2 separate regions of the Homo sapiens genome follow, and region 2 is linked to region 1. Evidence: fine-mapped expression QTL. A gene starts in region 1. The other region holds a variant in brackets. All regions are shown on one strand. Distances are between the middles of the regions.

Region 1 (15,403 bases):
TCTAGAACTAGAAAAGAGAAGGAACAGATTCTCCTTAGAGCCTCCAGAAGGAACACAACACTTTGATTTCAGCTGATAGGACACATTTTTGGACTTCTGTCCTCCAGAACTTTGAAAGAATAAATTTGCATTGTTCGAGGCCACTAAGTTGGTGGTAATTTGTTATAGCAGCAACAGGAAACTAATAGGTCTACCTTTACCCAGAATAAAATAAGAAGCCAAATAATGAAATTAACATTTGGCAATCTCTCAGCGGCCCCTGGCACCTTCTCTTCTCAGATCTTTGTATTTCTCTCTTCCTTTCCTTTCTGTTTCTTTACATTGTTTTTCCTTTTGTTACTCATTTAACAAATACAGTCACCTGGATTTCTCTTTTGGAAAACTCCCCCAATATTCCCAAATGTCTCTCAGCACTGGAATTCCATGGCCATGTATTTTTTCCTTTGAATTTTTGTTAATATCTTGTTCCAAAATGCATTCCATACCATAACCTGCTGTACTGACATTAAAAAGTAGGTATGAGGCCGGGCGCGGTGGCTCACGCCTGTAATCCCAGCACTTTGGGAGGCCGAGGCGGGCAGATCACGAGGTCAGGAGATCGAGACCATCCTGGAACATGGTGAAACCCTGTCTCTACTAAAAATACAAAAAATTAGCCAGGCGTGGTGGTGAGTGCCTGTAGTCCCAGCTACTCGGGAGGCTGAGGCAGGAGAATGGTGTGAACCCAGGAGGTAGAGGTTGCAGTGAGCTGAGATTGTGCCACTGCACTCCAGCCTGGGTGACAGAGCAAGGCTCCATCTCAAAAAAAAAAAAAAATGTAGGTATGTCAACGATGTCTTTCTTTTTTTTGAGACAGAGTCTCACTCTGTCGCCTAGGCTGAAGTGCAGTGGTGCCATCTCGGCTCACTGCAACCTCCGCCTCCCAGGTTCAAGCAATTCTCCTGACTCAGCCTCCTGAGTAGCTGGGATTACACACCCAGCTAATTTTTGTCTTTTTAGTAGAGATGGGGTTTTCCCATGTTGGCCAGGCTGGTCTTGAACTCCTGACCTCAGGATCCACCCACCTTGGCCTCCCAAAGTGCTGGGATTACAGGCGTGAGCCACCACACCTGACCGATGTCTTTCATTTTTTAAGTCATTGTATTCTAATTGCAAATTAGTAAATTTAATCCAGAGTACAGGGCAAATACATATAAAAAACCCAGAGAGTGATAAGATAAAAATCACCCATCAGAAAAAATTGCTGTTGGCCGGGCATGGTGGCTCACACCTGTAATCCCAACTTTGGGAGGCTGACGTGGGCAAATTGCTTGAGCCCAGGAGTTCAAGACCAGCCTGGGCAACATGGTGAAACCCCTATCTGTACTAAAAATACAAAAAATTAGCCAGGTGTGGTGCATGCGCCTGTAGTCTCAGCTACTTAGGTGGCTGAGGTGGGAGGATTGCTTGAGCCAGGGAGGTCAAGGCTGCAGTGAGCTGAGACGCCACTGTACTACAACCATGGCAACAGAAAGAAAGAAGGGAAGGAAGGAAGGAAGGAGAGAGAGAAGGAGGGAGGAAGAAAGGAAAAAATTTGCTGTTAACATATTTTAGTGTATTTCTTTTCAGTGGTTTTGCTGACTACATATGTCTGCATATAAGCATACCTTTATTTGTTCATTTTACCAAAAAAGGGTTTTACGTCCTAATAGTATTTTGTAAATTCTTTTCAAATTTATATTTTCCAATATTAATATGCAGTTTTTAATAGCATAGCTTTAATAGTCCTTAAAATTTTTAATAGATTCAATTATGCCAAGATCTTCAAGGACAGGTAAGACTGCCCCACTAAGCTGGGAGGCACTGAGGTAGGGAGAATCCCTCGCATTCTCTTTGTGGAAAAACAAGCCTCACCTCTGAGCAATAGTCTAAACTTAAATCTCAGGCCGCACTTTTCAGAGTGGGTTGTGCTTATCCTGTTCATTATAAATCCCTTTATGTGTTTGGCTTTTTAATACCTGATTTATTATATGTATTTTAAGGCCCCTCTGAGGAATCTGACTCATTTGCAGTTAGTGCAATTCATCCTTAAAAACCAAATGATGAATTATCAAGTTAGCAAAAGGGTCTTGTTTGTTAAATAATGTTGTTTTCAACATAATATATTTTATTATATTTAATCAGTAGTTTCCCCTTGGCTATTTCTTTTTTAATTCAGTAGAAGTGTGTGTGTGTGTGTGTGTGTGTGTGTGTGTGTCTGTGTCTGTGTCTGTGTCGAGTTTGATTTGAGCCCTTTTCTGTGGGTAGGTAAAATCCATTTGCCAATTTTTGGCCAAGGCTAGTCCTTGTACAAATGGGAGTAGAATACTGTAGCAAAGAACATGGGTTCAGGAGTCAAACTTATTTTCAAATGAGGCTCTGACATTTCCTACCTATGTGACCTTTGACCAAATTATTAACTTCTCTAAGTCTGGGATTTCTCATAGAAAATGGAGGTAATAACCAATTCTGCCTTACAGGATTATTGTGAGGATTCAATGAAATCAGCAGTGGTGGAACCAAGAAGTGACTTGTCACTTGTTGGGGCATTAGAGTACTTTTACTACACACGCATAATGGCCATCAGCTGTCTTAAGTAATCCCAAATAAACCTATAATTTAAGAAAAGAGGCCAGGCGCAGTGGCTCACGCCTGTAATCCCAGCACTTTGGGAGGCCAAGGTGGGCAGATCATGAGGTCAGGAGATCGAGACCAGCCTGGATAACATGGTGAAACCCCGTCTCTACTAAAAATACAAAAAATTAGCCGGGCGTGGTGGTGGTCGCCTGTAGTCCCAGCTACTCGGGAGGCTGAGGCAGGAGAATGGTGTGAACCTGGGAGGCAGAGCTTGCAGTGAGCAGAGATCGCACCACTGCACTCTAGCATGGGCGACAGAGTGAGACTCCATCTCAAAAAAAAAAAAAGAAAAGACAGGGGTCTCCCATGCCACATCAAGTCCCCTAGCCCTGCTGTCCAACCAAATTACATTCTAAAACCTGCCCCATATGGGGATTCTGGAGCTTCTGAAGATAATGCATGTGTGTCACTGTATTTGTTTTCACACTGCTGACAAATACATACCCAAGACTGGGCAATTTACAAAAGAAAGAGGTTTATTGGACTTACAGTTCCACATAGCTGGGGAGGCCTCACAATCATGGCTGAAGGCAAGGAAGAGTAAGCCACATCTTATGTGGATGGCAGCAGGCAGACAGGAGCTTGTGTAGGGAAACTCCACCTTATAATACTGCCAGATTTCATGAGACTTATTCGCTATCATGAGAACAGCACGGGAAAGACCTACCTCCATTATTCAATTACCTCCCACCAGGTCCCTCCCACCACAACACATGAGAATTCAAGATGAGATTTGGTTGGGTACACAGCCCAACCACATCGGTCACTTAGCACAATGCCTGGTACATAGTATGTAAATATTAGCAATCACTAGTACTATTATTGCAATGAGCCAGTTTACCAACACAGATTGATTTTTCTTTCCTTATACACAGTCACATTCATAAAGGATGGTAAAGAACATACCTCCCCTTCCTATAGTGGTTCAAATCCACCGTCTTGTCAAGAAATTCACTGAATTCCAATAACGTATTTCAGCTTTTTAGTACTCACCAATTTCCATTCATTCAGACCCTCCTAACTTGCCTTATTCTAAACAGGATTTAAAACTGTTATTTATTTATTTATTTATTTATTTTTTTGAGACAGGGTCTCACTGTCGCCTAGGCTGGAGTGCAGTGGCGTGAATATGGCTCACTACAACTTCTGCCTCCTGGCTCAAGTGATCCTCCCACCTCACCCTCACGAGTAGCTGGGACCATAGGCATAAGCCACTACACTTGGCTAATTTTTGTATTTTTTTTTTGTAGAGATGGGGTTTTGCCATGTTGCTCAGGCTGAAAACTGCTAACTTTTGATGTACTTTTTCGTATGTGGTCACTTGGCTTTTCACTTCTCTTTTATTACTTTTTCTCTTCTTTTTAAAAAACTTTTTGGATTTCTGACTATCCAAGTAAATATTTCACTGTAGTAGTTGACAAACTTTAAATAGATTTCTTTTTTCCTACGTGTAAAAATTTTCTATGTACCAAAACATTTTAATGTATAAGAAAGAACAGAGCTGAAATTGTATCATATGTATAATTTTGTGTCTTGCTGTTTTTACTCAAGCCATTCCTATGTCATTACATACTTTTAAACAACATTTCTAATGACCACCAAATGGATGTTCCACAAATTCTCCATCATTCCTTAGTGCTGAATATGTAAATTGACTGGAATTCCTCCTTGTTTATTTTAAATCAGTGTGTAGAGGGTGACAGTGGTGGAGGTGTTGGTAACAAACAGGAAGAGGAAATAAATCATGGCCAGTGTGTTTTGGATATGTGTATGGATATTTTCTGTGGTTGGAGGTAGGAAACATAGACAGTCATAGCCAGATCAATGGAACTTAACATAAGTGGAATGTTCTGGAATATGTACATGTATATCAGGGTTTCTAAAAGGTTGGATAATGATGAAGAGTATGATATCCTATATCTATGTTAACACTTTTCTCCCTTTCTTTACCTTGTTTCAAGAAGGATTTAGGGTGAACTCAACAAAAACAAAACAACTCAATCAAAAATGGGCAAAGGACTTGAATAGACATTTCTCCCCACCCCCCAAAAAAGATATACAAATGGCCAATAAGCACACGAATAGGTGCTTAACATCACTAATTATTAAAGAAATGTGAATCAAAACCATAATGAGATACCACCTCACACCTATTAGTACAACTGCTATAAGGGAAAAGAAAACCCAGAAAATAACAAGTGTTGATGAAGATATGAAGAAATTGGAATGCGTGTGTCTTTTAGCAGGAATGTAAAATGGAAAACAATATGACTGTTCTTCAAAAAAATTTAAAATAGAATTACCATATCCAGCAGTTCCACTTCTGGGTATATATCCAAAATAATGGAAAGCAGGGTCTCAAAGAGATATTTGTACACCAGCGTTCATAGCAGCATTATTCATTATAGCCAAAAGATGAAAGAAAGCCAAGTGTCGTCCACTGATGGATGAATGGACAAGCACAATGTGGTATATATACAATGGAATATTAGGCTTACAAAGGAAGGAAATTCTGCAATATGTAGAATGAATGAATGAACCTTGAAGATATCATGCTAACTGAAAGAAGCAAATCATAAAAAGACAGATCCTGTATGATTCCACTTATGTGAGGTACCCAGAGTAGTAAAATTCATAGAGACACACAGTAGAATGGTGGTTGCCAGAGATTGTTGGGGGAGAATGGGGAGTTGTTTAATGGGTATAGAGTTTCAGTTCTGCAAGATGAAAAGAGTTCTGGACATTGGTTGCACAACAAGGCAAATATATTTAACACTACTGAATTGTACACTTAAATATGGTTAAGATGGTAAATTTTATGTTATGTGTATTTTACCACAATTAAATTTTTTTTTTTTTTTGAGATGGAGTCTCGCTCTGTCGCCAGGCTGGAGGGCAGTGGCGTGATCTTGGCTCACTGCAACCCCTGCCTCCTGGGTTCAAGTGATTCTCCTGCCTCGGCCTCCCAAGTAGCTGGGACTACAGGCACGCACCACCAAGCCCAGCTAATTTTTGTATTTTTAGTAGAGATGGGGTTTCACCATGTTGGCCAGGATGGTCTCGATCTCTTGACCTTGTGATCTGCCCGCCTTGGCCTCCCAAAGTGCTGGGATTACAGGTGTGAGCCACCATGTCCGGCCTCATAAATTTAAAAAATAAAAAATTTAAAAAATAAAAAATTATTCCCATATATGATCCAGTTGTTCCTTATAACAGGCTAGTGAAGGAGCAGGCTGAATGTCATTATTTCAGAGTAGGGGAGATCCCCTTGTAGGGGTGTCATGGCATTCCCGCAGCTTCCAGGGGCAGGGGGTGGCTACCCACTGCAATCCCTCTCAGGTCTATCCTGGCATCCCCAGTGATATGGTTGGCTCCTTTCTGATCCTCAGCTCATTTGGCTGCCTGTGCCTTATTCTCTGTGTTGCCATCTCCTTATTTCTGCAGAAGATGCATTGCAGGACCCAGTGTGCTCCCTTCCTCATTCACTCTCCTAACTTTGGAGACTCACTCAGGAACCAGAGGTTCTCCTGGCTGCCCACTCAGAACTCTACAGAAAGCTCAGAGTTGGCATGTCAACCTCCCCCAGAAAAATGAACAGAAGTTAAGTCCAATTAAGAGTTTCGGTTTGAGGAATTCTGACAAATGATACTCTCATGTAACACACACTCCGTCAAGATACAGAGCATTTCTAGTACCCAAGAAAGTTTCCCTTCCCAGTCAAACTCTGTCCCCCAAGACAACCACTGTTTTGATTTTTTATTCCCTGAGAAATTTAAATTATTCTTTTGGGTTGGGGGTGGGGTAGGGGTGGGGGTGTGGGAAGAGATGGGTTTTTGCTGAGTATTCTTCCCAACCTATTGTTTATGCCAGGACGTGGGTCCTATTAAATGAAAAAAAAAAAAAAGAAAGAAAGAAAGAACCTCCTTTGTTTCTCCTTGCATTTTAGCCATAGCTTCCCTTTCCTTGTGGGCAGTGGAGGCCAAGGTCTAGTTTGAGAGAGGGTAAAGGAGGGTGACACATTAAAGAAAGGAACACCTACACACACACACACACATACACACATTTTATATCTTGACACTCCACTATCTCCATTGTTGGTGCTTTTTCTAATCCCCTAATTATGGGAACCCAAGCCTCTGTCCTCTATCTTCTATTACTACTTATAAAACTCTGGCCTGTCATATGTGGTCCAATTAAGAAATTCATGGAACAGATAATAAGAGGCCGTGTCAGGCACTTAGGTGATAATAACATTAACATAGTATCCTGTCCCTCCAGGAGTTTACTGTTTGGTGGGGATAAATGACATGCTAACAGCTAATTTACATTCACCCTAAATCAAATCCTCCTCTTGTGTTCTCTTTCTTGATGGTTGGAACCAACACTACCCATTTACAACCCCAGAAGCCTTCCTCCCTCTTCTTTCATCAATTCCCCCATACCCTGAACCAATCAGTCACCAAGTATACTAACTTTGCCTCTAAAGTATGTCTCAAATGCATCACTCTTCTCCACCTTAGTTGTCACAAGCCCAGCTCAGGATACCCTCATCCCTCCTCTGGACCATAACCTCCTAGCCACTGAAGCATCTGTCTCAAATGCCAATCTGACCCTGTCAATTCCCTCAGTCCCCATGGGGAACTGTCCATAGGAAGCGTCCACTATTCTGAACATTACAAACAAGGGCCCTGATAATCTGACCCTGTCCACCTCCAGGCTTAGCTCCTGCTGCCCCCATCCTTTTCCTTCTACTCCAGCAACATGGCCCCCTTCTCCTGGCTGCTTCTAGTCACTGCTTAGGAACCCCCTGCCCCAGCCCCGAAAACACACAAATATACTGGTATCTTGTCGCTGTGTTTCTATGGCAACCTGTGCCCTTCTCTCACTGTGTGTCTCTCCCACCAGTCTGTCTCTCCCACCAGTCTGACAGTTCCTTGAAGGCAAGAACCAAGCCTTGTTCATGCCTGTGTCTCAGTGCTTAGCACACAGTAGGAGCACAACATGTGTCAGGCACTGTTTTAAGCACTTTTCACACATCACCTCATGACACTCTATAAGGAAGCTGTTATTACGGTGTCTATTTCACAGTTGAGGATAGTGAGAGATGAAGCGGCTTGCCTGAGATGCAACAGTCAGGAAGCAGCAGAACTCAAGCAATCAGACTCCAAGGATGGTCTTCAACACCATGCTCACCTACCCCTCAATTTACATGTGCTTGTTGAATGAATGAACGATGACACGTTTTCACCTCCCCAGCTAAGTAAATTAAACAGTTCTCTCCCAATAAACATTAGCAATCACTAGTATTGGACACTGCTTCCTTTCCCCACATCTGCCTTCCATCATTCGCTCCTCCAGGGATTTTGGCTTTCACCCCTCTCTTCTCTCCCCTCCTGAAACCCATTCAGCCCCTCATCATGTCTAGGTGTTTAGTCTTGTTTTCCTTTTGAAACATCTGTCAGATTCACTCCTTCTCTGTTCTCAATCGCTGTCATCCTGGTCTGGACCTCATCCCTTCAGGCCACATGACTTTAGCAGCGTCCTTACTGGTTTTCCTGACTTCAGTAACTTAGTCCTTTGGGATCTTGAGGTTTACACACATTTTTATTTAACCATCACAACAACCCATGAACTAGCTATTATTATTTATGTTTTATAGATGAGGAACTGAATGATAGAGCCAAGGTTTAAACGGGGTTTGTGTTGCTCCAAGGACTGTGCCAGCTCCAGACTGGTGACCTTGGGCAAGTCACTTAACCTCCGAGTCTCAGATTTCTCATTTATAAAATGGGCATGATAGCAGTAATTATCACATTGTAAGAGCAACTGAGATAACACTTAACATCCTGCCTGACACACACACACAGTAAGTGCTCAATGATTTTCAGCAATCAAAGTCCACAATCCCCATCCACAAATTTCATAGCATATCTAGCATATGAGTTGGTTAATGGTTCTGGGCAAAATGTTTTCTCGAATAGCTCTTGAACCACAGTGAGAGGAAGTTGTCATACCTGGCCCCTTCTTTATTCCTCGAAGGTGTGCTCTCCTGGGAAGCACCATATGCTGTATGAAAAATTACTTTACATGGTTATTTGCAGAATGTACAGCAACAGAAAGTACACCCCATCTGGTGGAAAGTGCACAGAATCTGCAGTTCTGCCCTGTCCAGGCTGTGTGACTACAGGAAGTCTTCAAGCCTCTCTGAACTTATTTTCTTATCTACAAAATGAGAAAAATGGATGGTGTGGTGGCTCACGCCCATAATCCCACCACTTTGGGAGGCAGAGGCAGGAGGATCATGTGAGCTCAGGTGTTCAAGGCCAGCCTAGGAAATATACTGAGAGCCCCATCTCTATAAAAAATTTAAAAATTAGCCGGGCGTGGTGGCGCTCACCTGTAGTCCCAGCTACTCGGGAGGCTGAGGCCGGAGGATCGCTTGAGCCCAGGAGGTCAAGGGTGCAGTGAGCTGTGATTGTGCCACTACACTCCAGCCAGGGTGACAGAGAGAGACCCTGCCCCCCAAAAAGGGGGAGGGGGGAATAATACTTTCCCCCAAAGGATACTGAGATGATGCATACACAACCTTTAGCACACTGTCCAACACAAAGCAAGACCTACTTAAAGGATCTGTGTAACATTATAATCAGATACTATGCTTCATTTTAAGTCGAGGACCAGATAGATTTATAAATTACATACTGTCAAAATTAAGTATTAAAAGTAGAGGAAAGGTAAGAGGATTTTGCAAATCAGGTACAACTACAGCTTATCCTGAAAAGCCGACTGCCTAGTTCTGAGGGAACAAGCCACTCCTCACCCTCAAGCTTGAGGAGAGGGCTGTAGAAGCCCGCCCACCTCCACCGCCCCGAGGGCTCCGCCTCCAGGGCCGAGGGACGCAGGCGTAAGCCCCGCCCACTGGGGGGGGGGGGAGAGAGAGAGAGAGAGAGAGAGAGAGAGAGAGAGAGAGAGGAGAGAGAGGAGAGAGAGGAGAGAGAGGAGAGAGAGGAGAGAGAGGAGAGAGAGGAGAGAGAGAGAGAGAGAGAGATATATGCCCTGGTCACGTGAGCGGGGTGCGGAAGTCGTGTTTCAGGCGGCGTTCGTGATTGGCCGCGGCCGAGGGTCCCGGGGGTGGGGTCAGGCCCTCCGACGCTTCGGGAGGAGCCGGGACTGGAGGCTGCCGAGGGGGCCGGCGCCCGAGTCCGGGATTCGGCCAGTGGTGCTGAGCGAGTGCTGGACCAGCGGCCGTCCTGTGCACCTGGCCTGTGCGCGTGCCCGCTGCTCGGCTTCACCCAGACTAAGGCGCGGGCAGCTGCGGGAACAGGCGGGGTGGGCGGAGGGAGACCGGGAGGCACGGGCGCCCTGTGCGCGGAGGAGGTGAAGGCGGCCGGGGCCGGGACGCCATGTCCATGGAGGACCCCTTCTTTGTGGTGAAAGGGTGAGTGTCGGCCGAGCGCTCCACCGGAGGAAGAGGTGGCGGTGCTGCCTGCCCGCACCTCCTAGGTCTTCTCGCAGTGGGGGGAGGGGAGGCAAGTTGGAGCTGGGGAGGGGGAACAGTGGAGACGGCTTAGTCTTGAGGGCCATGACCAAGCGTCAAGAGACGTTCCCTCCATCCCTACCTGGACCGTGAAGCCACTGTCCCCAGCCAAGCCCCTGGTGGTGGGGGGCCCTTTTTGGCCTGTGTGCTGCGGTACAATTTATTTGGGGGCCGAGGGGCTCAGCAGCTCTGCAGGTGGGGAAGGAGACACGCGGGTCCTGGCGCACACTGGCCGTCTAGTCGAGCATGGGATCTTGCTTCGAAGGAGCGAAAACAGCATCTGGGCAGGAAAAGGGAAATGGCCCTCCTGAGCTTTGTAGTTCGCGTTGACGGGGGTGAGCTCCATTGTCCATTGAGTTTGGAGCGCTTGTCCGCAGACTGGCGAGACCACAACAAGCCCAGAGGCGTCTGAGCACGTTTGCTGGGAGGGAGGCGGGGGCGGGGGCCGTTCTGGGAGGCTGGGGAGCAGGGCACCGGAAGACAATTCAATGGGGGAGTTTTTACTGAGTAATGTGAGGAGAGGAAAGCAGTCGTTCATACTCAGTGATGATTTGGAAGGAAAACAAAATGAAACAAGCCAAACCAAACTTTCCTCAGCTTTCTATTAGCAACCGGAATTTTCTCACAGTGCTAAAGGAAATGAGTGTTGCTTGTTAACTCCTTGATTTCATCCAGGTTGTTTGACAGGTTTCTCCTATTTCTTCTGCCTTTCAGAATAGAAAGGACTGCCTTCTGTTCCCTTACAAGCTATCCTAGCTCATCTTTGATTGCTCGATTGTTTCTTTGGAGATAGAGTCTTCAACTGCACTTTGTAATATCCACTTCGTAGCCATTAAACACATGCAAGAAGATCAATTCTGATGTAACTTTTAGTTTCTTATTAGAAACTTGTCAGTTTTCTGTTTTAAATGTCAAACATGAAAAATCTGAAAACTGCAAAGTTCCCAGGTCAGTACTGATCACCACAGAATGTCCCTTGCTTTTTACTAGTTGCTGCTAGCTTCCTATTTCTGTAGTGGTGCAAGCTGGCCGTTGTATAGTCAAGTGTTGTAGAAAATTTAAATGGTATTTTAGGTGAAATACTTTATCGATTATGCAGTAAAATACATTTATACTACTTCTTAATATTTCCCTGGAAAGTTTTTTTTCTTCACCTTACTCTAATTTAGATGGGAAAATGCTGAGTTGTAAATTTACTGGTAATATGTGTATCCCTACCTAGAAAATGTGATATTTATTAGAAGGATTGATTTAGGGGTTAATTTTTAAAATAGATGTTTTTTCCTTGATTGAAAGTTCTTAATGCTTAGGTTGGCAAAGGTTATCTCTGGCGGTAGAGATCAGAGATGATCAGAAATTTTTTGTTTGACTTTTTATGGAATTTGTCAAAAGCCTAAATTCTTCTGTCTTGGCATTTTTTTTTCTTGATGGTATCCTATACAGTCTACTAATGCTTGCTCACTGATTAAATATCACTACTTTATCGGAACATTGGCTTGGAGGGAGTTTTGATTGATTTTTACATCATTTTAGCTCCTATCTTTAAGGTTCTTGAAGGAAAAGAGATTCTCAGTTCCTTCTGCTGTGGAAAGGTAAAGTCACCCATGAAGGTGTATCCAGATTTTTGGGGAGTCATGTACCTGTGTTTATTAAAAGTATCAAAAATGCATTACACAGCATGCAAAAATTAAAGGTGCCTAAATTATGGCCCTTAGCCTAGGAGCTTCTGGTCTAATCTGAGAAACAAATTACCCCAAAATTAAATAGAAATGACAGGTGGCAAATGAATGAGTGTTGAAGTGAATGCTACAGATAAGTGCCTCAGGAGTTCAGAGAAAGGTAACTCCTTGGGAATTGTTAGGATTAGGAGAGCTTTTGGAGGCAGTAGTGTATCTTGAATTAGGTTTTGAAGATGGGCAGAATTTAGATAATCAGGCCTGTCTCTCTTACCTGGATGCTTATCAGAGTCTTTTTAATTGTTCTTCCTGCTTCTGGTCTCATTTCCTCTTTCAGCTGTCCTGGGATCTATTGGATCATTGCTGTCCAATAGAAGTATAATGCCAGCCATGTATGTCATTTTACATTTTCTAGTAGCCGCAGTAAAATATAAAGGAACAGGTGAAATTAATTCTAATGTAATCTCTAATACATTCAAAATATTCAACATGTGATTAAAGATTATTGATGAGATATTTTACTTTTGTACTAAGTCTTCTAAATCTGATACATATTTTACACTTACTGCACATTTAAATTTGGACATTAAATTTTCATCAGAAATAATTGATCTGTATTTAAAGTTCATTAAATACATTTTTTTTTTTTGAGACAGAGTCTTGTTCTGTTGCCCAGACTGGAGTGCAGTGGTGCAATCACGGCTCACTGCAACCTCTGCCTCCCAGGTTCAAGCGATTCTTGCACCTCAGCCTCCTGAGTAGCTGGGACTATAGGTGTGTACCACCTCACCTGGCTAATTTTTGTATTTTTAGGACTATGGGCAGGGCACCCGCCACCACGCCCGGCTAATTTTTTGTATTTTTTAGTAGAGACGGGGTTTCACCATGTTAGCCAGGATGGTCTCGATCTCCTGACCTTGTGATCCACCTGTCTCGGCCTCCCAAAGTGCTGTGATTACAGGCGTGAGCCACCGCGCCCGGCCTACATACTCTTTAATTGTTCCAAACATACATAAAAGGTTTTTGATAACTGAATTGCTATCAGTTACCAAGTTTACATTAATTAAAATTTAATTTCTGTCACACTAGCCACATTTCCAGTCAGTAGTTGTATGTGGCTTCCGTGTTGGACAGCACAGTGTAAGCTTTTCTAGAGTCCTAGACAGGTGTACCCTACTTAATATTATTCAGTGGCTGCTGCTGGCCTGCAGAATAAAGTGCCAACACTTCCTGACCTCACTGATCTAGCCTCTGCTCTCCCTTAGCCTTAGTACTCCAGCAGTGCCAGACTCAATACAGTGACTGTGATTGCTGTACTGGATGCTCTTACTCTACATGCACCCACACTGCCTGATTCACCCACGCAGCTTTCTGGAGTCAGTGTAAGCATCTCCCTTGCCTCCAGGAAGTGCTTCCTTTGTCACCCCTAATTATTGGACCTCTTCCTCTGTCTCTCTTTCATTATTAGACTATGAGCTCTGAGGTTTGGGACTGTTTTTTTTTTTTTTTTCCTCTGTATTTCCAGCCTACACCTTGAATATATAGTGTAAATGTTGAACACATACTCTTTGTTGATGGTGGTGATTGTGATGGAATGGTGCCTCATGGGTGAGAACACCACCAGCCAAAGGCCTAAGTTGGGCAATGTGTGTTAGAAATGATCTGGAAGAGCAGCCCAGGTGGAGTAGACAGTTTAGGGAAGTAGTAACAGCTCACATTTAAAGGATGCATCTCCAGTGCCAGGCATACATGTAAAGTGCTAAGTAAGCACTTTATATGAATTTTCACTCTGTAAAAACACCCATATGATGAATACTAGCCACATTTTAGAGATGAGAAGCTGAGGAAGTGTTAGAGGGGTTAACTTACTTGCCTAGGGTCACACAGCTAATAAGTGGTGTACTCAGGCTTCAAATTAGAACAACCTGATTTCACACTACTGTCAATACTTCCCAGTGCAGGTAAAATAGGGTCAAGTTATGTTGGCCTAAGGAGAATCTCATCTTGAGGCCATTACAGATTTTTAAAGCAAGGAAATGACATGAAATTAGGATTTTAGGAATATTGATTTGGTGGTAGTGTTGGATGCATCAGTGTGAGGAAAGATGAAAAAGGAGACCAGTTAGAAAGCTGTTGTAACTTATACATGCAGTGGTTAGTGCTTGGAAGTTTGAAGCTCCTTTTGGGAGGTTTTGACATTGTCAATGTCCTGTTCGGAACAGAATCCCACAACAGGGATTGCTCTTTTATCCTTATGAAGTAGGTATTATTATTGTCATCATTTCACAAAAAGGAAAATGAAACTTAGTAAAAAACTTCAACTTTATAAGCTTGTACGTAGAAGGGCCAGGATTTATATATTTATTACAAATATATATTATATATATAATATGGTCATTTTAAAAATTGGGATTATACGTTATATATGGTTTTATCACTTTTTCTTTTCTTTTTTTTTTTTTTTTTTTTTTTTTTGGGACAGAGTCTTACTCTGTCGCCCAGGCTGGAGTGCAATGGCGATGGCGTGATCTCAGCTCACTGCAACCTCTACCTCTTGGGTTCAAGCGATTCTCCTGCCACACCCTCCCAAGTAGCTGGGACTACCAATGTGCGCCACTATGCCTGGCTAATTTTGTATTTTTAGTAGAGATGGCATTTCACCCTGTTAGCCAGGCTGGTCTTGAACTTTGACCTCAGGTGATCCACACACCTTGGCTTCCCAAAGTGTTGGGATTATAGGCATGAGCCACCGCGCCTGGCCTGTTTTATGACGTTTTCATCTGTATTTCTTTATATCCTTCAGACTTCTGGGTGGCAGCTTTTAATGACTGCATTGTATTTTGTCATATAAATGTTCATCCTGGAAGATACATTATATTTATGATCACACTACAATTAATGTGGTGATAAGCCTACTTGTCATAGGTCTGTATTGCTGCTTCTGATTTTCATAGCCTGTATTCCTGGAGCATAATTGCTAATTCAGAGGGCAGGCACAGCAAAGCGTTTGATGCATACTACCACGTTGTCCTCCAGAATATTCCCCCTTGCCCCTCAAAGTGTTTGAGGGACCCAATTCCCTTGATTCCAGTACTGGGATTTTCATTAAAAAAATCTTTACTAATCTCCGGGTGAAAATATCATATTTAAATCTTGTAGTCTTCATCTTTGTATTCAGTAAGGATGTACTCAGTGTTTGTTGAGTGAACCCATTTTGATTGTTTAGTTCTGTAGTTTTTTTCCTCCCTTGTTGGCAAGTTTTTAGAATTAGCCTCCTTTTAGAATTTGCACCTTCTAATCAGACAAACCCTGAAGAAAACCATGTAACTGAGCATGTGGAGACAGAGTATAAGTGAGCCACTCCTGTGGATAAAAGGTACAAATACCATGGCTCTTTGCTATTTTATTGCTGTGGAGGTTTTGTGTGTCTGATGAGGATAGTTTTTTGTTTGTTTGTTTGTTTGTTTTTTTGAGACGGAGTCTCACTCTGTTGCCCAGGCTGGAGTGCAGTGGCGCGATCTCGGCTCACTGCAAG
Region 2 (15,403 bases), 54 kb after region 1:
TGTTTAGAACAGAGTGCTCTGGAGTATTTCGTAGTGATTCTTTTTCCCCTCCGCCTGCTGGAAGCATGAGGGGATTTTTCCCAATATTCGCTGAGAACCTGGTCAAGCTCCTGGAGGTAAAACCCACAGAAGTGTGGGGGTCCCCTTCGCCTGGGTCCACCTGGAGTGTTTTTGTTTGTTTGTTTTTCATCTCAGACTTGTCCACACTGAGCCTTCAGCGACTCATCAATTAAAGCTAAGGTTTTCCTACCAGAACACTGGTTCCTATGGAGTTTGTTGCTTCGTGGGTTTCTGCTCTGATAAGCTGTGATTCTCTGTATGCATCTGTAGGTTTCTGCAGTTTTAGGGGCAGCAGTTTACCATGTGACCTCACTTCTCTGATGGATCTAAGAAGAGTTTTGCTTTTTCAGTTTGTTCAGCTTTTTACTTGTTACGACAGAGTGATGACTTCTAAGCTTCTTACATACTTGGCTGGAAATTAAAAATTTAACATTTTTAATCAGATGAGAGAATGCCAGTTATAAAAGTTTTCTTGACCATTGAAGTAATAGTTAAACAGGTCAAAGTGTGACCTGCAGTAGGCCATCTCTGCCTTCCCTAGACCTTTGGAACAGTCCTACCTGAGAACAACGAGTGATGGACCTGGGGTCTTTGTCCTGCTCAGAGTTAACTAAATGAGTTTCTAGTATGTCTGAGGTAGACCAAGGTGATCACCACTTAGAAGGTACTTGCTTTACTTATAATTTGGTGGCAGTTCTCTTGTCCAGTTCTAAGACTTTGATATCCATAATATTTAAAATAATTTTAAGTACATGTTTTGCCTTGTGGAGAGTTTAGCAGTTTATTTTCATAGATTGAGATCTTTTTGCAACGTGATTCTCAATAACTATAGTGTGCTAAAATCAGTGGGCTTTCAAAGAAACTTTAGTGAATCAATATGTCTTTATATTTCTATTTAAATGGAACTCTTATTCCTAGTGGTTGTACTGCATTTTCATACGCTAGTGAATTCTGTTATCAGTCGGGCCCTTTGTGGAAGATGCCAAAACTCATCAGTGGAAGGACTGCTCATTTTTTCTACATGTCTCCAAATTAAGGAAGCATCCTGATGTTGACAGCATCCTCTGTGCCCTAGGTTTGGGTATTGCACAGTGTGTGTATGACAGGGTTGTGTTGTTTAATTCTCACAACAGCCCTGCGGGGCAGCTGTTGTAGAGTTGGGACCACAGGATTGTGAGCTGCAGCAGGGCTCCCCCAGGGCCTGTCTGGGCCCTTCTGTCTCACAGGGCCTCCCTGCTCTCAGCCATTTGGATGGACTCTAGTCAAGTTGTTTCCTGTGCCTGCTGTTCCAAATTGTTGGTAGGGCAGAAAGTTTCAGAAAAAAAATTCCACTTTCATTTACAGAGGAGCTGTACAAGGTACTTTAACACAGTTACTAGTTAAGTAATCTTACTTGACTAGGTGTGGTGTGAAATTAATCATGCTGTCTCACTGGAGCTTGCTTTTTCAGCTGTATATTTCCTGAAGTGACCAGCAGTAGCTTTCATCTCCTTTCCCTCCTCCCGTTGTGCTCATTGAGAAAAGAATGTGATTATTGTTTAATTAAATGACTTGACTTTTATGGGAGATTAAAGCAGGCAGGCTTTGATCTGTAACACCATTGCCAACACCTTTTTTGAGGATATGCTAACTACCAGCAGAAAGCTAAGATCCGCAGATTTTAATTAAAGACTTGAGACACAAAGCATGTAATTATTACGAGACATTTTCAGGGGACTGGCAAAGTTGTGACTGCATGCGAAGTGCAGGCCAAGAACAGAGCAGCATTAGAGCATCAGGCACCTAGGCAGGTGTAAGATCATGGCCCCGTCATTTGCACGTTCTGCCCCTTTTCTGCTTCAAAGGGTGCCATAAATTCCATATAACTGTATCTTGGGGAATGTGGAGTCCCTGTGAGAGCTAATCCCCATGTCCTGCCTTCCAGATCGGCGCCAATGGTGTGCCATAGCCATCCTCTTTGCAGTCCTGTTGGTTGTGCTCATCCTCTTCTTAGTGCTGTGACGGCGGGGCCTCTGGGTGCGAGTTCCTCCTGCATATGAACCGAGGGGAGGAGGAGAAGCTGAGCACGTGTGACATTGCCGTCTACTCACATTCCTATCCTGGAAACATACTGCTGCACTGACTTTTCTCCGTGTGACCCCACAATTGACATGGCTCCTCCATCCCAGCGCTGGAAGGGCCAGTGGGAAGAGGAAATAGATGTCTGCACTCCTGGCTGCAGCTGGACAACAGAAGCCCCATGCCGCCTGTCCAGTTCGGAGGAGAACTAGCTGCTGCCTTGCCTTCCGGGACCTCGTTTGCTGAGGAGGGACTTACAGACTCCACTGGTGTTTTGCTGTTGCTCATTCCATGCATCTTTGGCAGCTCTTTTCTTCTGCTCAGACCCTTCCCCGTGCTCAGACAGTGCACCGCTGTCCCATCTAAAGAAACCTGTCAGGAATACGAGCTTCTGGGTATGTTTCGTTTCCCATTGCTGTAGCATTTCTTATCCCCTGAGAGCTGATGATTATTGAGGACAGAAGGCTCAGAAACAGTTTGTGACAGAAAATGCAGTGTTTCATTTTTCAGGGATAAATGCTAAGATAAAATTGCTTTTCCAGGTCATTTTTTTTTGTGGTAAGAATAACTAATGGAAAATAATGAAACACCCTGGGGTTTGGGGGTGCTAACAACTTGTGGCTTTAACTGACAGGAGCAATTAAAAAGAGCAAGAGGGTTCTGCATTGGCATAGCTTAGGGAAGGGTTAATGATGTCGCCACAGGTCAGCTCCTGATCCTTGCCGACTTGATGTTGCTGTACCAGGGCTTCCTCCCCAGAGGTGCAGCTTGCGTTTTGAGGGTGATTGCTACATATGTTGTTGCTAAACAGCTCAGTAACACACTTGAATGAATTTGGATACCAGATTGTCCTCATTACAGTTCTTTTACTCTTAGGGCACTCTACACTGGGGGTTGGGGTTGGGAGTGGTTAGTACATTTATTACATTTATTAAGAAACGTAATGACATAAAAGGTTAGCTCTGGGCCAGACTTCTCTTACTCTGTGGGTAATGGCAAGGATGTGTAGGTAAACTTGGTTCTTTTTTTTCCCTAAGATGACAGCTTGATTTTATCATCTGCAGTCAAATAACTGAGCCAATCCAAATTTAAATGATAGATGCTTTAATTGAGTTTAAGTAGCTGAAACTGCTGAGACACTAAACTTTAACCTTCTGATGACTTTTTAAAATGCCTCAAATGTGCACATGTATATAGGATATTTTTATAACTTCCCTGATGAATAATCTGATATTAAAGTAGTATTTGGACCCAGAGCCAGAACTCGGTGGTGGAGGCTGCTGGTCTCTCCTCACCACCTTCTTTTGCACTTGGAAAGAACAGCAACATCTGGATAGAGTTCTAGCTTTGACTTCTCATTTCCTTGTCTTTTTGGGTGCATTCCTCAGCACACTTTTTTTTTAAACCTTTTTGTTTTGTTTTGTTTGTATTTCATGTGGTTTTATTTGGGGGTTTTGGTTTTTTCACCCTTTTTTGTGATTTGCAATGATGTGCTTGCCCAGCTAACTTTTGAATTGCACTTTTTAATAAATATTCTTAACAATTTTTGAAGAAGGATATTTTATCTCATTTGAGATCATGGTAGGTTAAGAAAATATGCCTGTTGATGAAAGCTAAAAGCAAATTTATGAAACTAAAAGGGTGATTGACATCCATGTTTACACTCCGCTCTAATGTTTGATATATAAATAAGTTATTTTCAAATTAGGAAAAAACAGTGAGTATTACAAAGGGCTTCAGATGTTTAGAGTACTAGGTTATTTATGTTTTACAAAGTTTGAATCTTCTATAAACTAAGAAAGGGGATGATCCTTAGATTTGCATTAAAATATAGAAGTCTTTTAAAGTAAATGTGAACCTTGTCTAAGTACTGTAATCCACACAACACATTATAAGAAGCAAACCAGCATCTTAAGGAATTATAAAATTACCCTATTTAAAAGCCATGCTATTGTTCTGCTATTACCAGATTTATTGTGCCACACAAAAGGATCATGTGTGTCAGCAGGGGCCGTTTGGAACAAACCTAGTCATTAATGAGTAAGATACTCCTGTTAGTTCAGGGACCAAGTTTTATGACCCAGAGGCTTAATGATGTTTGGATATATTTCAAATCGGCGTGCTTACCTCACTGATTTAAATTATTTTCTAAATAGTGGCCATTGTAGACCTGACTCAGGCTGAAGCTAAATAGAGAACAATTTAGAAAGTTAACTAACAATACAGTGCATTCTACCCGTAGGGCCACCATGCCCTTCTGCCCCTGGCTGATTTGATCCTGTGTCTGATCCCATTGCACCCTGACTGGGCAGTCCCTACAGAACCAGTGTTAATTTGAAGGGCCTCCACTCAGGCTCCAAATGTGGCAGCCAAAGAGAACAATCCAGGGAACCTACATTTATTTTTAAGGACAAATATTTCCTCCTCAGTGGTCCTAATGTTCAGGGCTTTAGAGGGAACCCAGGTGGTCTCTTCACCCTGTGTCCTAGAATGGGAGAGTAAGTAGACAGTGGTGATAACCCCACACTGCTTATAAGTGCATCTTTATAGTATTTGGGGCTTTCCTACCCCTTTAGCCTTCTGTACCTAGTACCATATTCCAGTTTTAAAGAACTGGCAGAATGTGATGGATAACAGAGGAAGAGCTCAATTTATGTTTATTGGAAGAACATTTTACTTAAATGATTTGAGGGGTGGGAGGGAGTGAACTACTGAGTTTGCCAGAGTGAAAATCCATCTGAAAAACTCAGCTACCTTTAGTTTTTAGTCCTCATTTTTGGTCTTGTCTCTGCGGACTGTGAAGAATCACAATGCTCTATATGCCCTGGACTGTGTGGCAAATGCAGGTTGCAGCGTGTGTGTTACATGAGGATCTTCCACAATTTCAGAATGCACGCCAGAGCTGAAGGGGGAAACTTGGTAACTTGCCCATTATTCTCTGCTTTTAGCCAGAGTTAAACAGACTGATGGGTCTGGTAGCCAACAACTTGGCAACTTCCACTCCTTCTCACCTCGTGAGATTAAGGGCTGTGAAAAGAAATCTAGTCTAACTCCAACAGAAATCTGTCTCTGTTAAGTGTTTTACCTTCTGTAAGTAGAGATGGTAGAGCCAAGATTTTTCTTTTGGTAATTTCCCTGTCTATAAAGTGAGACCAAAGGGATATCTGTTCCCTGTTACCTTTTTGGAGAATTCATAACATTTGAAGATCAAAAAATTGAATGATAAATATGAATGGCTTTTCAATTCTGTGGACTTTGTACCATTTGGCTTCACCTTGTACTGCAAGATGAATTTGTAAACAAAACAAAATTGGACTGTCTGGAAAGCTAAAGTTCTGAAATATGGAATGTACTGCCTCTAATTTTTCTTTGTCTTCCTCTCACTGGCATTTTTTTCTCTCCCAGGTTTCTTAAGAATAATGTTTTTTAAAGGAGGCTTTTTGCCCATCAAGAATAAAAAGAAATAAAACCAAAGGGTTACCGGACTTAAGCCCCCGCAGTCACTGTGCGCCATCCCTGAGCAAAGTCCGCCCCTGAGGACAGTGCCCCTGCCCCAGTGACAGGCCTTACTCCTCCCAGGGCCTTTGCTTCTAATAGGGGGTGGTCTTTCTTTTCTTTCTCTCCTTTTTTTTTTTTTGATTAAAAAATAAAACCAAACCAGAATTTGCTGAAAGCAGGTACCTTTCAGTAGCTCCGATCAGAGTAACTCAGCTTAGAGATACTGTTACTCAGGACAACAGTATGTACAAAAGTCTCCGGAAAAGGAAAATAAAACAACCTGAAAAGAATTCAACTTGAAAAGGACTGAATTACTAGAATGATCATATAGCAGAATAACACAAAATGCAACAAAGAGCCACCCAAGCCTGAGGGTAAGACCTCTACTTCCCAGATTCTTGGATCATAGCCCATGACTTCTTGGGGCACAGAGGCTGGCTTCAGCATGAGGATCTCACCACTAACTGCATGTAACTCATCCATGCCTTGGGCAGAGGCTAAACACACGGAACAAGGCCACCAGACAGGTACACATGAACCCATGAGAGCGGTGCTCTCTGTAGAGTCTATAGACCTGGCAGGGACCATGGATAGCTTAGAGGTACTTACTCTGCAGCTGGTCACATAAGACCCTAGACTGGCCAGGCGCGGTGTCTCACACCTGTAATCCCAGCACTTTGGGAGGCCGAGGCGGGCAGATCACGAGGTCAGGAGATCGAGACCATCCTGGCTAACACGGTGAACCCCATCTCTACTAAAAATACAAAAAATTAGCTGGGCGTGGTGGCGGGTGCCTGTAGTCCCAGCTACTCGGGAGGCTGAGGCAGGAGAATGGCGTGAACCTGGGAGGCAGAGCTTGCAGTGAGCCAAGATCGCGCCACTGCACTCCAGCCTGGGCGACAGAGCCAGACTCCGTCTCAAAAAAAAAAAAAGACCCTAGACTGACCTAAGCCCTACAGTTCCCTTATCCAAATTCCCACTAACCAGTGAGAGAGAGGGACAAGACTTGGAAGCTGCCTCCAAACCAATTTTTGGTCTACAGTAAACAAGGATAAACATAAAACACCATTCCACAGGCCAGCTTCAAAAGAACTAGTGTGCAAAGAAGGTGAGAGATCCCAAAGCCCCATTTAGTAACCCCCACCGAAGGAGGGGGATGGGTGTGGGTGGTGAGATGGCCTGTTCTGCTGCTGTGGGCACCCCTGTGACCTGTCCTGCTCTGCCATCCGGCCTTAATTCGTACAGTTACCCCCGCTTCCTAGATGTGCACTCTCATGGCCCAGAGCTCTCACCTTTCTGAGCCTGAGCCTCCCGGCCTCCAGCGTACACAGAGTGGAAATGCCAGATCCTAAGGGTTCTCTGAGGAGGGTGAGGTGGCAGTTTTTCTGAGAACCTGGGGTCCTTCCATGCCACAACAGTTGTAGGTGGGGCAGGCCAAAGAGGATGCTGAGTTACTGGAGGCAGAGAGCAGTCGGTCAAAGAGCAGGGAGGAGAATACAGCTGGGAAAATGATGAGAAGTTTCCATTGCATGGACTCAGCAAGCAATTTCTGGGGTCACCTCAGTTATGAGGCGTGAACAGCAAAGCTTTAAAACTGATGTGAGAACAGTGTGTCTCCCTTTTTCCAAATTCCCCAGAGGAACACTACTCCCTGCTCTGGAACTTCACATCAAAGAAACAATACACCTGATGGGAAGAAGTCTTTTCAGGACCCCAGAAGTGCCCATTGGAGGCCCATCAGAAAAGTCTGGCTGCTTCTCGTTTGTGGGTCCGCACATTTTGGGCAAGATGGCTAGAGGGCTGGAGGTTTCCCAAGGCCTCTAGATGCAGTTGTGCAAAATCAATCCTCCACAAATCACTGGCCCTTGGTAGTATGCTCGTTCCACCACCCACTGGAAGTGAGGAAGATCTTTTTGCTGTCAGAGAGGGCTGTCCTTCACTAACACCATAAATCTGCTCCCTGGCTGCTGGAGTGCACAGGCCAAGGGGGTCTTGAAGATCCTCGTGTCAAACTTGAGTGTCAGGCTTGCAGTTGGTTTCACCGTAGATAACCCTTGTTGCCCTACAGCTTGGGTAACTGTTATTGTGTCTTGACCTTTTGCTCTTCCTCTTCCTTGTCTGAACTGCGTTCCCTTCTTAGATAAAGGACAACTTTTATGTTTATTTTCTTCGTCCACTGTCA[T/C]GTCACCCACTTGCACAGGAGTCCCACCTTATCTGCGGTTTCACTTTCTGAGGTTTCAGAAATGGGTTGCACTGGAAAGCACTGTGCCTATACAAAGATTTCAGCAAGGGAGTTCCTATGTATATAAGGGAAGAAACAGTTTATCTAGTCAGTACAATCTGTGGTTTCAAGCATCCACTGTGGGTCTTGGAATGTATCCCTGCAAAAAGGCGGTGGGGCAGGGGGCACTTCTGTATACTTCAAAACGTGCACGATGAAAACATAGTGTTATCTGTCAATCTGAAAACAAAATCGCCATGACTTCTGGGCACTGTAGTCCTACCTGTGGACTGGCTGCCTGACTGTGGAGCGTCCTTGTATTGGACACTGAGGGACTAAGATGGCGACTTCTCATTTGGCAGCCTGTGGCAGCTGAGTTTGAATTTGGTGGTGGCCGTCGCATGTTAGGGTAGCCATAGAGCTGCTCGCTGTCAGCCGGAGCAGCAAGCACAGTTTCACTTGACCCATTTTACACCTGTTGTCTCCACCCAAGCACCATGGCTCCAGTTAGGAAGGGCAACCGTTGGGTGGCCAAGAACAACTTGTTACGGAGCCAGAAGCTGACCTCCTTTCTTAAGGATTTCAGCTGTGAAGTGCAAATACTATGGAAGCCAATTCAGTCAGGCAGAACCTCTCCCAGAAGATTGATAAGATGCATGACCAGGCCACTCAGCGGCTTCCTGAGGCACAGTGTGACATGAACTGGTAATGCACAGACTGTGCATTCGTAGCTGTTTCGTGAGTAATATGCAGAGTGTGTGTCTTGGGTATTTTAAAGTACGTGAGAGGGTTGTTTCAGCAGCTGATGGGATGCCAAATGTTTGACTTTTTATTATTCCAGCCCTTCAGATTTCCCCAGAATTGTCACCTTGTAGAGCGTGTGTCTTCCCAGTGTGTTCCAGGAATTCTCTATACCACTGTCGTGTTGCTCAGAAAACAATAGAGCTCTCAGTCAGTTCAGGTAACCTTAGAATCTGCGCTGATGCCTCAGAAAGGAAGAAAGGCCAGGACGGCCTCGGGGGTGGCACTCTTATTTCTCCCTTGGTTTCACTTCCTTTTCCATTTTTTGTGGCTTCCCACTTCATCCCGCAGCCTCCTCTCATAGGCTGTCCCCCCTTACCCCCACTCCATTCTTCCCACTCTCTAGCCCATTTGTGTCCTCAGAGGTCTGGCTGCTGCCACTGCACCTGCCTCAGACCCAGTGTCACCTCGCCAGGGCTTCAGCCAGCCTGGCCTTCCAGCTGCCACCCAGCAGCGCAGCAACTCAGAACCTTCTGGCCCAGACCTTCATACCCAACTCCCGCCCAGGGCAAATACAGAAGCCTCTGCTGGTGCAGCCAACACGGAGTGGGGAAAAAGGGGAGAGGAAAAGCAGCAGCTTCCTGTGCTTCCCAGCTCAGGGCATTGGTAAGAGTGGATGGAATTTGGCATTCTGCTTCTACCATTTTGAATGAATTGGCCTATTCTTTTATACCATCACCCCTCCCTTCCAAATCATTCATTCTGGTGTGCAGCCCATTTCTGTCTATTTTCTAATGAAATGACCAGAGCCACCATGTAAGCTTGTGCCCTGCACAAGGATAGATACCCCACTGGGGAACAAACGGGACCAAAATCCACTCTGTGTTCTGCTGGCCAAGCCGGGTGACCTGGCCTGGGCTGGCGTCCTCCCAGAAGAAGGGTTCATTTTTCCAGTTTGCACACATGTGCTATTTGTGGGTTAGCTGAGGCCCTGCTCATGTCTTCGGTTGGTTCACAAATCAGAAACAGAACAAATGGCCAGAGATTAGTGTTGTAATCAAACTAGATTTACAACCAAGGCACGCTGAGTGGCATTATGGGTTTTATCCTGCGGCATGGCAAGCCGCTCATGCACAGGCTGTGCTCAGTGTCCTTTTTCCTCAGCCATGCCAGCCATGGGGAAGCAGGAGGGGAGCTTGTTGGAGAAGGCGGCCTCAGTGAGAGCCTTGGTGCATTCCCCTGAAGCCACAGTTGGGGGCTTCTCCTTCAGCAGGGGTCCCCATAGTCTGAGTGTTTTCAGAAATCTTAGGTCCAAGGGACCCCCAATTTTTTTTTGTTTGTTTTTTTGTTTTTGAGGTTGAGTCTCACTCTGTCGCCCAGGCTGGAGTGCAATGGTGCGATCTCGGCTCACTGCAACCTCTGCCTCCCGGGCTCAAGTGATACTTGTGCTTCAGCCTTCTCCCTAGTAGCTGGGACTACAGGTGCATGCCACCAAGCCCGGCTAATTTTTGTATTTTTAGTAGAGACGAGGTTTTACCATGTTGGCCAGGCTGTTCTCAAACTCCTGACCTCAAGTGATCCACCCACCTCAGCCTCCCAAAGTGCTAGGATTATGGGTGTGAGCCACCGTGCCCAGCTGATGGGACCCCAAATCTTATGTCCAGGCCCCAGGGTCTGAATTCATATTTAACTACTGAAAGGCATCAGCATCTCCTCTCTGGTTGAACTTGACCTTCTTACTGAGAACCAGCCAGGCAGGCATCAGAAGCCTCAGGCTACAGAGGAGAAGCTGGTGGGCAAATAGATCAGGAGCAAGTGCTTTCACCATCATGGATGAAAGTTGAAGGCCAAGAACACTTCCTTGTCCTGTGGTGCAGGGGTTGGGATGGAGGGGTGAGTCTTATAAATGGAAGAGAACTAAGTATTGTGATTTCAAGGAAGAACATCTGTCCCCTGCCCCCAAATACCCCCAAACCCGCCAAAATTCTACAGATTCATTTGGCTTAACTCCTCTCACAGAGGTAAGCTAAGGTAGTCAGTCTCGCTGTGGTTGCAGTGAATTTGTTTAATGATCTTGGTTTCCTAACTGCTAGATAATCCACTGGAGCCAAAGGAGTTTTGGTGGATTGAGGGAACCTACAGAGGTTGGGTAGGGGTGTGTTAGGAGTTGAATTGTTTCCCCCAAAAAATTCATGTTGAAGTTGTAACCCCCAGTACCTCAGAATGTGGCATTCTTTGGAAATAGGGTTGTTGATTTAATTTGGGAAGGTGAGGTCATCCTGCAGTAGTAAGGTGGGCCCCTAATCCAGTATGACTGATGGCCTCATGAAAAGGGAACAGAGCCCTACAGTTTACACAGTGCTTTTATGCACGTTTTTCCTATCCATTTCTGTGGGGTAGGCATTATCATACCTGTTGATTTTACTCTAGTTTATTGCTTTTTTGGCCTACCATCTGTTAGCCTCACTTTTTCTAACAACAGGAACCCCTTCTGCCAAACACACAACATATTTTGGAAAGTTACCCTACCCCATTCCAACATGTGCTTGTGTTGAGAGGTACCAGTCTTAATCCTCCTGCCCAGCCCTAGCCTAAAAAAGTGTGTGTGCTGGTTAGGCTCTCCCCATCAGCCCCCAGCTAATCTCTTCTCTGCCCTTCCATGCCCCAGGAGGCTATACGCATCAGATTGCACTTCCAGAGCCCCCGGCCTCTGGTTGGGCTTGGCCACTGCGATGAGCATCCTCAAAAAAGACCAGAGAGCTGGAGGAGAGAGAGGCTGGGGCTTCATTCCCCAACCCACCTCACTGCAGTCCCGCCAGGGGCCACGGTCACAGCTCTCACAAGGAGCATCCTCTGCCAGGGTAGCAGCTCTTGCCGGACTATGATAACAATATTCTCTTTTACCCTTCAGCTCTGGTGGAGGTAATAGCTTCCCTCTGTCACACGTCTCTGGACACTTCACCATCCCGTACTGGTTTCCTCAGTTCTGATTATTCCCTTACAGATGCTGTCTGTTGAATTCATTTAAACCATATTGAGTTGTACCATTTAGTTCTTGCCAGGACTGTTAGCTATGGCTTGTCTTAGAGGCTTATCCTGATGGTCACGGTGATTAGGCCCAGAGGTACCACATGATCCAACGCACGTCAGAGTCCTCCCGTGACTTCCTTTTCCTTTTAGTAACCAGAGCTGGGAGAGAGACACCCATTCTTACGGAGTGGTGAAGCGATGGAGGATATGAGCTTTGTGCTGGCAGCCACATCCCTACCTCTTGGATAAAATCATTCACATCTTGGTTTTGATCTCTCGGGTCCCCACACTGCCCTGATTCCCACCTTTAAAATAGCATCCCACTTTGTGCTTGAGCCGGTTTACATAGGTTTCTGTTACCTGCAACCATTAAGAGATAGTTTTTCAGCTAGTGAACAGGAGAGTCGAAGCTCAGACTCCAGGCATCTGCCTCCAAAGCCTGTACTTTTAGCAGATGCTCCATATTCATAACTGTGGCCAGACACCTCCCCTGCTGTTGGCCACAGCTGAGAAAATCCCTCCTACTCCTGTGAGGAAAGGCACGTGTGTCTGGGTATTTCCCGTAGCATGATACAGGGGTAATTCATTTTGAATAATAAGATCATACATGAAAAGTTCTGTATTAACTGAAAGTTGACCAATTGAATCATATCTTTAAGGTATAAGAAGAGCTCTTTGCTGGAAGGAATCTTGTCATTAGTCCTTTAGTAAAGCAGAGACCCTCTGTTTGTCCTGTTAAATCCAGATTTTCACTCCTACTGGTGGTGTGTGAGCCCTTTGTTAACTAAACAATTTGTAAGAATTGCTCCACCTCCCAAAGAATTTCCCAGCTTATTGATGGAATGGAAGAATTTGCCTCAATGGATCCCCAAAAACAAGGTGCCCTTGGAGGTACTCCACTCTGTCAAGACAAGGGGAACCGCCAAATCTTGTCAAGATGCCGCTCAGAAGTAACCAGAGGGCTCAAAAGTTCGCAGGGGGCTCTAGCCATGAGATCACTACAGGCCAACTAAAGAGATGGCTTCAGGATAGGGTGAATGTAACCTAGATTAGAGGATTTATGAAACAATTGTTCAGGCAATGCAGGAACAAGGCCTCCTCTCTTTACCTGTTCTTTGTTGGGTGTCTTTCCCATATTCCAGGAATCTCTTTAGCTAGGCAATACATTCTTCTTCCAGCCAGTTCTTTTGATATTGCAACTCATGCTGATTGGCCTCCCGTGCCCTCTTGATGGTGTGAGCCACATTATCTACAGCCAGTCAGGAGAGGGTGTCTTTATTGAAGATCAGGAAATTCTGCCCATCATATGCATACTGCAGAAATCCTGTAGTGCTTCCATCCTCCAGCAGCTCACAGCCAATCATTCTCTGGTAAGTGTGAGACCCTGGAACACACACGCAAGCCCAGAGGGGTCCACACAGAGACAGAGGTGGGCTCTCAAGTGCTGGGAGCAGGGGCATGGCTGGAAGCATCCTTTGGTCTACGTCACCCCACAGGCCTGCTGTGGCATCGCTAAGTCCCCAGGAGGTCCCTCTTTGGAAGCCCACCTGACAGCAGGGTTGTTTTTTAAATTTTTTTTGGTTCATATAGCTTTAGGGATACAAGTAGTTTTTGATTGCATGGATGAATCGTGTAGTGGTGAACTCTGGGCTTTTGGTGTATCTGTCACCCAAATCGTGTATGTTGTACTCAGTAGGTGGTTTTTTTCACCTCACCCACCTTCCACCTTTCCCCTTCCTGAGTCGCCAGTGTCCATTATACCACTCTGACAACAGGTATTTGTGAAGTACCTACTGCATGCCAAAGGAGTGTGATAATTCCCTTCTTGGGGAGTTATCCTGTAATGGGAATGATTGATTGATAAACTGTGGCTATTTGAGTGCAGTGGAGGAGGGAGAGAGATGCAGGAGCTAGAAATATCCCTGGGAAAGTTAATGTCATTATGCATAAGCAAGCAGGTCACTAGGCCTGGCTACCAAGAAGTGAGACACAGAATGGGCAAATTTAGAATGGGAAAGGAGATGGGGATATGGGGAAGGGGGATGCGGCAGAGGATAAAGGGCTCCTGGGGGAGAGAGGGACAGTCCAGAAGATGCACAGGCAGATGGGACACTCTGAACTACACCAACCAGATTTCCCAGGTTTTGCCAAAAGCCACAGCAGGTGCAAGTCAGCATTGCTCATTGGAGGTCAGCCCAGGGGCCTCTGTGGGGTGAGGGAAGCGTCTGTCTCTGCTGCATGCACACCTGAGTGATTGTAGTGTCTCTGCTGGCGCTTCAGTTCCACCCTGAACATCTGCTGCCAGCCCTTCAGCAGCTGAGTGTACCTCTCCCAGTGATCAGGCACGAGGTTCTCTGCCATCCATGGGGCCCGTGGCTCCTTCTGCTGAGTGACACTGTCATATGTGGTGATAGGGTGCGAGTCCACATACCCAACTGAAATAAATTCAGGGACCCCATGGATGGGATCCGAAACGCCCAGGCGAAAATATCTCAGAGAGTGCGTCCCTGGAAAGGAGGCAAAGAAGGAAGACATGTAGGGTCCCAGATGATCCAGGTCCTTCAACTGCATTCATTTAGCCCCACACGAGTGCTCCCTGCTCAGCTGTACCCAGGCCTCCAGGCCCCAGCTGCCATTTCCTCTTACAGAACCCAGGAACCGGGGCCTGGACAGGACTTTAGAGCTCCAGACCAACGACTTGGAGCCTTTCTCGTTCAGGTTTGCAAATGCAGGATGGAATTTTATAGGTAATCTCAACTCATAAGCAAAGTACAGTGCAAGCTTGTCCAACCCACGGCCCAGGACGTCTTCGAATGCGGCCAACGCAAAATTTGTAAACGTTCTTAAAACATGAGGGTTTTTTTTTTTGTGATTTTTTTTTTAAGCTCATCAGCTATTGTTAGTGTATTTTATGTGTGGCCCATGACAGTTCTTCCAATGTGGCCCAGGAAAGCCAGAAGATTGGACACCCCTGGTAGAGAGTGCTGCTCTGGTTGTAGGGGGAAGGGAGAAGACACAGGGGGAGCTGTCCCTACGGGAGCCCTTGGGAACTCTGAGGTCTTGAAAACCCTGATAATCCAGCCCTCTTGTTTTACCAAAGAAGTCTGTGGGTGGATAAATGAGGACCCCCCACTCCACTTCTGTGTGCACGTGTGAGCACGCACACATAAGCACATGCGCATATACACCAGGTCGGTCAGAGCGAGATCCCTGTTAGGATTCAGGCCTAAGTGGGCAGGTAGCATCTATAGTGTGGAGATGTTGGACAAAGGATGATTCATGTTCTGAGTGGGACCATGTGAGATTTCTTCATGCTACCAAGAACAGTGAGCAATTTAAAACTTATGAATTGTGTATTTCTGGAATTTTCCATTTAAATTTTTGGAACCAGTAGCTGAAACCGTGGAAAGTGACAGCAAGGATAAGGGGCTACTACTGTCCATAAATTGTGGAATGGTTAGATCTAGCTTCCTAACAACTGCATAACCTCACATCATTCGCATAGAGATGATTTTTTTTTTTTTTTTTGAGATGGAGTCTCTCTCTGTCACCCAGACTGGAGTGCAGTGGTACGATCTCAACTCACTGCAACCTCCACCTCCTGGGTTCAAGCAATTCTCATGCCTCAACCTTCCAAGTAGCTGGAACTACAGGCTTGCCCCCCAACACCTGGCTAATTTTTGTATTTTTAGTAGAGACGGGGTTTCACCATGTTGGCCAGGCTGGTCTGGAGCTCCTGGCCTCAAGTGATCCACCCATCTCAGCCCCCCAGAGTGCTGGGATTACAGGCGTGAA

What was found. PIP is the estimated chance that this variant, and not a neighbour inherited with it, causes the effect.
Region 2: its variant is fine-mapped to the expression of STX6 in whole blood (TOPMed, PIP above 0.99).

The regions. Positions count from the first base shown.
Region 1 is chr1:181,017,329-181,032,731 of GRCh38, reverse strand. It overlaps STX6 (syntaxin 6), which reads left to right and starts at 9,862. Exons shown (of 8, transcript NM_005819.6): 1 at 9,862-10,093. The coding sequence starts at 10,059. RefSeq lists silencers at 9,581-9,680, 9,801-9,930 and an enhancer at 9,339-10,122.
Region 2 is chr1:180,963,228-180,978,630 of GRCh38, reverse strand. It overlaps STX6 (syntaxin 6), which reads left to right. Exons shown (of 8, transcript NM_005819.6): 8 at 1,985-5,906. The coding sequence ends at 2,061. It also overlaps the pseudogene MR1P1. Among named protein-coding and RNA genes, the nearest start is that of KIAA1614-AS1, 16 kb to the right of the region's middle. The variant T/C (reference allele first, on the strand shown) is at 7,799.